Regions from separate parts of the Homo sapiens genome. Here region 1 is linked to region 2. Evidence: fine-mapped expression QTL. A gene starts in region 2. The other region holds a variant in brackets. All regions are shown on one strand. Distances are from middle to middle. Region 1 overlaps DGCR2 (DiGeorge syndrome critical region gene 2). Region 2 holds the start of DGCR2 (DiGeorge syndrome critical region gene 2).

The links.
Region 1: its variant is fine-mapped to the expression of DGCR2 in whole blood (TOPMed, PIP 0.97).

What each region holds. Positions count from the first base shown.
Region 1 is chr22:19,033,748-19,036,642 of GRCh38, reverse strand. It overlaps DGCR2 (DiGeorge syndrome critical region gene 2), which reads left to right. Exons shown (of 10, transcript NM_005137.3): 10 at 1-357. It also overlaps the pseudogene CA15P1. Among named protein-coding and RNA genes, the nearest start is that of FAM246C, 5.7 kb to the right of the region's middle. RefSeq lists a silencer at 455-624. The variant A/G (reference allele first, on the strand shown) is at 1,553.
Region 2 is chr22:19,120,894-19,123,788 of GRCh38, reverse strand. It overlaps DGCR2 (DiGeorge syndrome critical region gene 2), which reads left to right and starts at 1,377. Exons shown (of 10, transcript NM_005137.3): 1 at 1,377-1,661. The coding sequence starts at 1,583. RefSeq lists silencers at 1,053-1,492, 1,613-1,732 and an enhancer at 1,517-2,018.

The sequences.
Region 1 (2,895 bases), 87 kb after region 2:
GGGAGCATGAGGAGAGCTGGACTCGCTCATCTGTTCTTGCACCACCATCCAGAATGCCCCCTTTGCAAGGCCTGCTGCAGTCCCCAGTCTGACCAGCAAGTCCCGGGGTCACCCTTGCTGAACCTTGTGCTCCAGGGGTCCTCCTCCTCTAGGACCAGCTTGCCACGGTTTCTCAGAGCCCAGGTGCCCTCTGACCTGCCATGCGGAGGTGGGATTTGATACTGTACATTGTCTTGATGCCTGTTTTTTTATGTTTTCATTAAGGGTTTTTAGTTTTTGGTTGGGTTGACACTAACTTTTCTTAAGATGCTGTGAGAATCATTTCATCCAAATGCCAAATAAACTTGTGTTCCGGAAGAGGCATGGTTAGTCCTTGGTGTGGCCCCCACGGCTGCCACAGGCTAAGGTGGAAGAGGCTGGGTACCCACCTTTCAGCAGAATGCACCTAGGGTTTGCAGCCCTTGCAGGCGTCCATCAAACCCCCTGAGGACCAGGCAGAGCTGAGCCTGGAGCCCCTAGGTGGAGTGTGCAGGGAGAGCAGCAGCCCTGAGCTGCCTACAGCTATCCTGCAGCACCCAGCCCTGCTTGGGGCATCGGCTGCTGCCTTGGCAGGTGTTGCTGACGTGCACAGGATCCACATAAAGGCAAGGCTGCTTGACACCATCTGGGAGCTAGCATGGGACGGGGTGGTAGGGCAGGGCTTGGAACCTGGCCGTCAGCGCCATTTCCTCTAAGCTCCCCTCATCATCCGGGTGGCTGGAAACAGCCCCTCCCTCCAGTCCAAGCCACCTAATGTTACAAAGTAGCCTAGGTCCTCTGGGGCCTCTTCACTCATGTCCAGCAGTGCCATCTCTAGGTCTCAGAGGGTAGTGGGCCCAGGAAGTGTGATTGCATGCCCTGCTCTGGGGGCACTCCAGATGTGTATACTGGGGGGACGTCCTGCGGCCGGACACGAGAGGAGTCAGGGTTAGGAAAGGAACTGGTAAGTCCCTTGGCAGGGATGGGAGCCTCGAGGATGTGGCCCCTCATTTTTTATCCCATCTGCTGGGGCAGGAGTGGAGTGGTGGTGTTGAGTCCCGAGCACACAGGTCACTGTCAGCACTCTGGACAGAGCCCCGAGCCCTGCCTCTGGGTAGGGGCTGTCTTCCCATCCCCAATGTGGGTAGGGCCCTGCCCTCTGGCGATTGGAAAGAGGCGCAGGGTGCAAAGAAGTCCCCTCCTCTGACCTCCTGCAGGGCTCCGTCTTGGCCTGGATCCGCAGGGGGGCCTGGGTAGGAGGGAGGCTGTGGTCTTGGGATGGGGTGGCAGTTCCGGGCCCACAGTGGGGCAAGAGACATCCTACACCTTCCTCCCATCCTTGCCCCGAAAGTCATGGGCACTGGGGTCCAAGGTGCCCTCACTATTTGACCTTTCTTGCTGGTGGCTTTGGTGTGTCATTCTGGTCCCCAGCCTCTGTTTCCTGGACTGTAAGTGGGGATAATAATAGGTCACCCCTCCCCTGCAGGATTAACCTCAGCGATTGTTGCTGGCATCAGTGCAGCCCTGGGACCAG[A/G]GCACACCTGGGTGAGTTTGGAGCGCTCGCGCTCTTCCTGGTGGCCCTGCCTGGGCACCGACCCCTCCCATCCTCTCCTCAGTAGCCACGCCCCTAGCCCAGCTAGCTAATGAATAAATATGTAGTAGCCAGGCCAGCATCCTGGCTGCGTGGTCTAGCCACTTTCTAGTCCTTCCTAGCTGCGGCTGCCACTGAGCCACGCACGCCCCTGGCATCATGCTCGCCTTGCGGTGCAGCTGGTGTGGCGCAGACTCTGAGAGTGAGCACCAGGACTCTTCCTGTCTGGCCTCCAATCTACCCTCTTGCCATGCTCCACCACCCCTTAGGTCTTGCCACTGGGAGTGGGGAGGGACTGGGGAGAGAAAATACTGAGGTAGGGGTGACAGGAGAGAAGGTTCTTCACTGGCCTCCCCTGGCCTAAACCCCTGACCTACTTCATTCTTGGACCCCAGCTGATGGGATGGGGCTTGGAGAGGGCCCAGATGACTGGCCTCTCAGCTCAGCCTCCTGCCCACTGTCTCTATAGGTGCCTGGTGCTATGACTCCCAGGACCTCAAGTATGGTGAGGACAGAGTGTCATGTGAGGCTGTGTCAGATCAGTCTGTGTCCTGGGACCACCAGAGCATGTGCCAGTGGTGCAAGAGTGGCCAAGAGACAGTCTGCACCCTGCACTCTGTGGCCTTTGCAGGTTTCTGTCTGTAGTCGTCTGCCCCAGTAGACTGACTGGGCATCAGGTGCAAGTGCGTGACTGTCCCCCTGTGTGTGAGTCTGGGCCTGCTGTGATTGCCGGTCCCGAGTCAGTCAAGGCTGGTGTGCCCGTTACTGTGGCCAGCCCAAGTGTGTGCAGGTGATAGAGGTCCCAGTGTGGGTGTGCAACTGTGTGCCGGAGACCCTTCCACCTTCATCTCACCATGGGGCAGCCAACTGGGAGACTAGATGGATAGGTCAGATGCAGGGTACAAGAGAAGGGGGGTGCTGTGACCTGTTCAGGTGTGGGGGAAGCAGGGAGCTAGGTTTCCTGAGGCTGGGCTATCCTCTGGGTGTATGGGGGCCACTCTCTGCTGCACCCCCAGGCTGCCTCCCTGACCCCCCCCCCACCCCAAAGGCCCCAGTCCTTGTTCCAGCAGTCCCCACCCACTGGAAGAAGCTGGCCCCCTGCCTGTGGGGGCCCAGGCCAGTCCCTCATCAACATTGACTTTCACAGGGTCCGGCGGAACTCTACCCTAGGGCCCTTCATCTTCCGAGGCTATGACTCAGCACCTCCAGGCCCTTGGACCCTGGAGAATGACAGCCACACAAGTCAGCACCCTGTGGTCAGGACCCCTCCTAGGCAGAGGCAGGAG
Region 2 (2,895 bases):
CCTGAGTAGCTGGGATTACAGGCGTGTGCCACCACGCCTGGGTAACTTTTGTATTTTTAGTAGAGATGTGGTTTCACCATGTTGGCCAGGCTGATCTTGAACTCCTGACCTCAGGTGATCCGCCCGCCTTGGCCTCCCAAAGTGCTGGGATGACAGGCGTGAGCCACCACACCCGGCAGAGTCTGGCACTTTTTAATAAGAAACATTAACAGTCTTTTCTCTGTGAAGCCTGATACCTGGAGGCTTCATTTGCCTAAGAAACTTGGTCTCCACAACCCCTTAATGTAGACAGTCCCTTTTATTGATTCCAGGTCTTTAGATAAACTCTTTGAACCAACTGCCAATCCGCATGACCTAGAAGCCCCCCTCCACCCCCCACTTTCAAGTTGTCCCGCCTTTTCCGACTGAACCAATGTATATCTTACATGTGCTGATTGATGTCTTGTCTCCCTAAAATGTATAAAACCAAGCTGTGGCCCTACCCCCTTGGGCACTTGTCAGGATCTCCTGGGGCTGTGTCCCAGGCTATTGGTCACATATTGGCTCAGAAGAAATGTCTTCAAATATTTTACAGAGTTGGACTCTTCGCCGACACTGCCCTCCAAGGTTCACCCTGTTGGTGATGACGGGAGAAGTGGCACTTGGAGCACTGTTCGCAGGGGCGCTGAGCCTCCTCTCTGCCTAGCTTTCTTTCCTGCACATGTGGCCTTCCCCTAGCCATTGTGTAGGCAGGTCCTCCAGGGAGCCGGCTTCGCTGCAGTCTCCAGGACCTGGCCTTCCCGGTCTCTCTTTGCCTGACACTCTCTTAGGCCATTCCTGTTCCTCTTTCCCCACCCTCAGAACCGGCAGGCCCTCCCTCCTCCACAGCGGTTCGGCCTTAAAAAGACCCCTTTGGGGCGCACTTTTGGGCTGCTCACGGGACCTGAGCTTGCAGGTGTGAAGACCCTTGGAGTCCCAGCCAGGTTCCCACTTCGTTCTCTCCGCTCCCCACCCGCGCGACCCCTCGGCGCCCCGCCCCATGCCCCGCGCCTTTCGATGTCCATCCTTGCCGTCCCGCGCCCGCCGTCCCTAACCGGCGTCCAGAGACCCTACTCCCTTCGGTGGCCCCGCCGCTCAGGCCCCGGCCCCGGCCCTGCCTCTCTGCTTAACCAATGGCACGCCTCACTCCGTATGGTCCCGCCCTTCCCTTAGAGCCCGCCCCTCAGTCCCCGCCCTTAGGTCCCCGCCCTCCGCCGTCGCGACCTTAGGCCTCACCCTCTTCGGAGGGCTTTGGCTCTGGCCCCGCCCCCCATCTTGACGGTCATTGGCCCGCGCCTGCGTCGCGGGCGGGAGGCGGGGCGGGGCGGCGCGGCGCGGAGCCGAGCAGGACGGCCGCCATCTTGCGCGCAGCTGGAGTCGGTGCCTGAGGTTGCAGCCGAGAGTGTGCGCCAGCCCGCGGCCCAGCCGAAGCTCTTTCCCGCCGCCTCTCCGCGCCTCGCCCAGGTTCAGCTCCGCCTGACCCTCCGCTTGGCACGGTCCCCTGACCCTCAGTCCGGCCTGGTCCGGCCTTCCAGCCGCCCCGGGGACGATGAACGGAGGATAAATGGTGCCCAAGGCAGACAGCGGCGCCTTCCTGCTGCTCTTCCTGCTCGTGCTCACTGTCACCGAGCCGCTGCGGCCAGGTGCGCCGCGCGATGGGGGCGGTGTGGGGGCTGGGCGGCGAGCGGGGCCGGGGTCGCCCCGGGACCTCCTTTCACCCGCGGCGCCCTCCTGCAGGGGCCGCGCCTGGGGCAGGGGCGGGCGGGGCCTGGCTCGCGGGCCGCCTGGCACTCTCTGCGGACGCCTGCTGGAGCTTACCTGGGCTCGCGGCGCCTCGGACTTCGTGCAGCTCTGCTGTCCAGGATGTTGCCTCTGGGCCCTTCCCGGGAGCGGCGGCGGCCAGGAGCTACGCCACGGGCGCACCCTCTCGCCAGTCCAGCGTCGGAGTCGGGCTGGGGACAGTGGCTCTCAGGGGCACCTGGTTTCACAGACGTCCTCCCAGCAGTGGCCTAGTGCCAGCCTCTCAGTCCTGGAAACTCCTCGCCTGGACAGCGGTGGTTGTGGCTGTCATTCAGTGAGACGTTGCGCTAAGGAAGTCCTCAGGTCCCACCGGGCCTAGAGGAGGCACCAGGAGTCAGCCTAGCGTTGTGTGGCCGGCGCGAGCGTCCCGGGAGCAGAGACCTCGCCACTGTGCGGGGCCCTTAGCCGTGCTGCGTGTATGTGATGAATGAGTCCGTGCTTTGGAACTCCCCTCGGAGCTAGTGTGTTCTTAAGTCTGTGGTGGGGAATCAGAACCGTGGCAACCAGGAGACCCTTTTCTACCTATTTCGGTGTACCTCCCCTTGAACTGCACCAAAAAATCAAACTCCCTAAATGCAGGGCCGATGTATCCATCAGGCACAGGAATCCTGGTATCACTTGCCCACGGTACTTTTAGTAGCCTTCGAATGTTATTTTATTTTTTTTTAAAGTCAGCAGAAAAAAAATGAACTTTTAGGTCAAATAAAATGTTTTCGTATGTATATTAATACAGTCATCTTTATACTAATACAGTGAAAAAGCATGACTCTTAATATTTCTTAATGGAGGAAAGGTCCCATGAAGGCAGAAGTGCCAGGGCCATCTTCTCTGATGACCTGGGTGTGGGAGCACGGGGTGTGTGGCCCTCTCCTGTGCCCTAGCCAGGCTCCCAGCCCAGATACACCGCACCTCTTGGCTCTGCGCTTGTGTCATCTATGTGGAATGTCTGCCTCCTCCCTAGTGCCTGCCTGGTGGCCAAGGCCCTGACCGGTGCTCAACCTGGACAGATTCAGTGATGCTTCTCTGGTCTCCCCATGTAGAGCTAGTTGCTCACTGCTTTTGGCTGCTCTCTGGGCA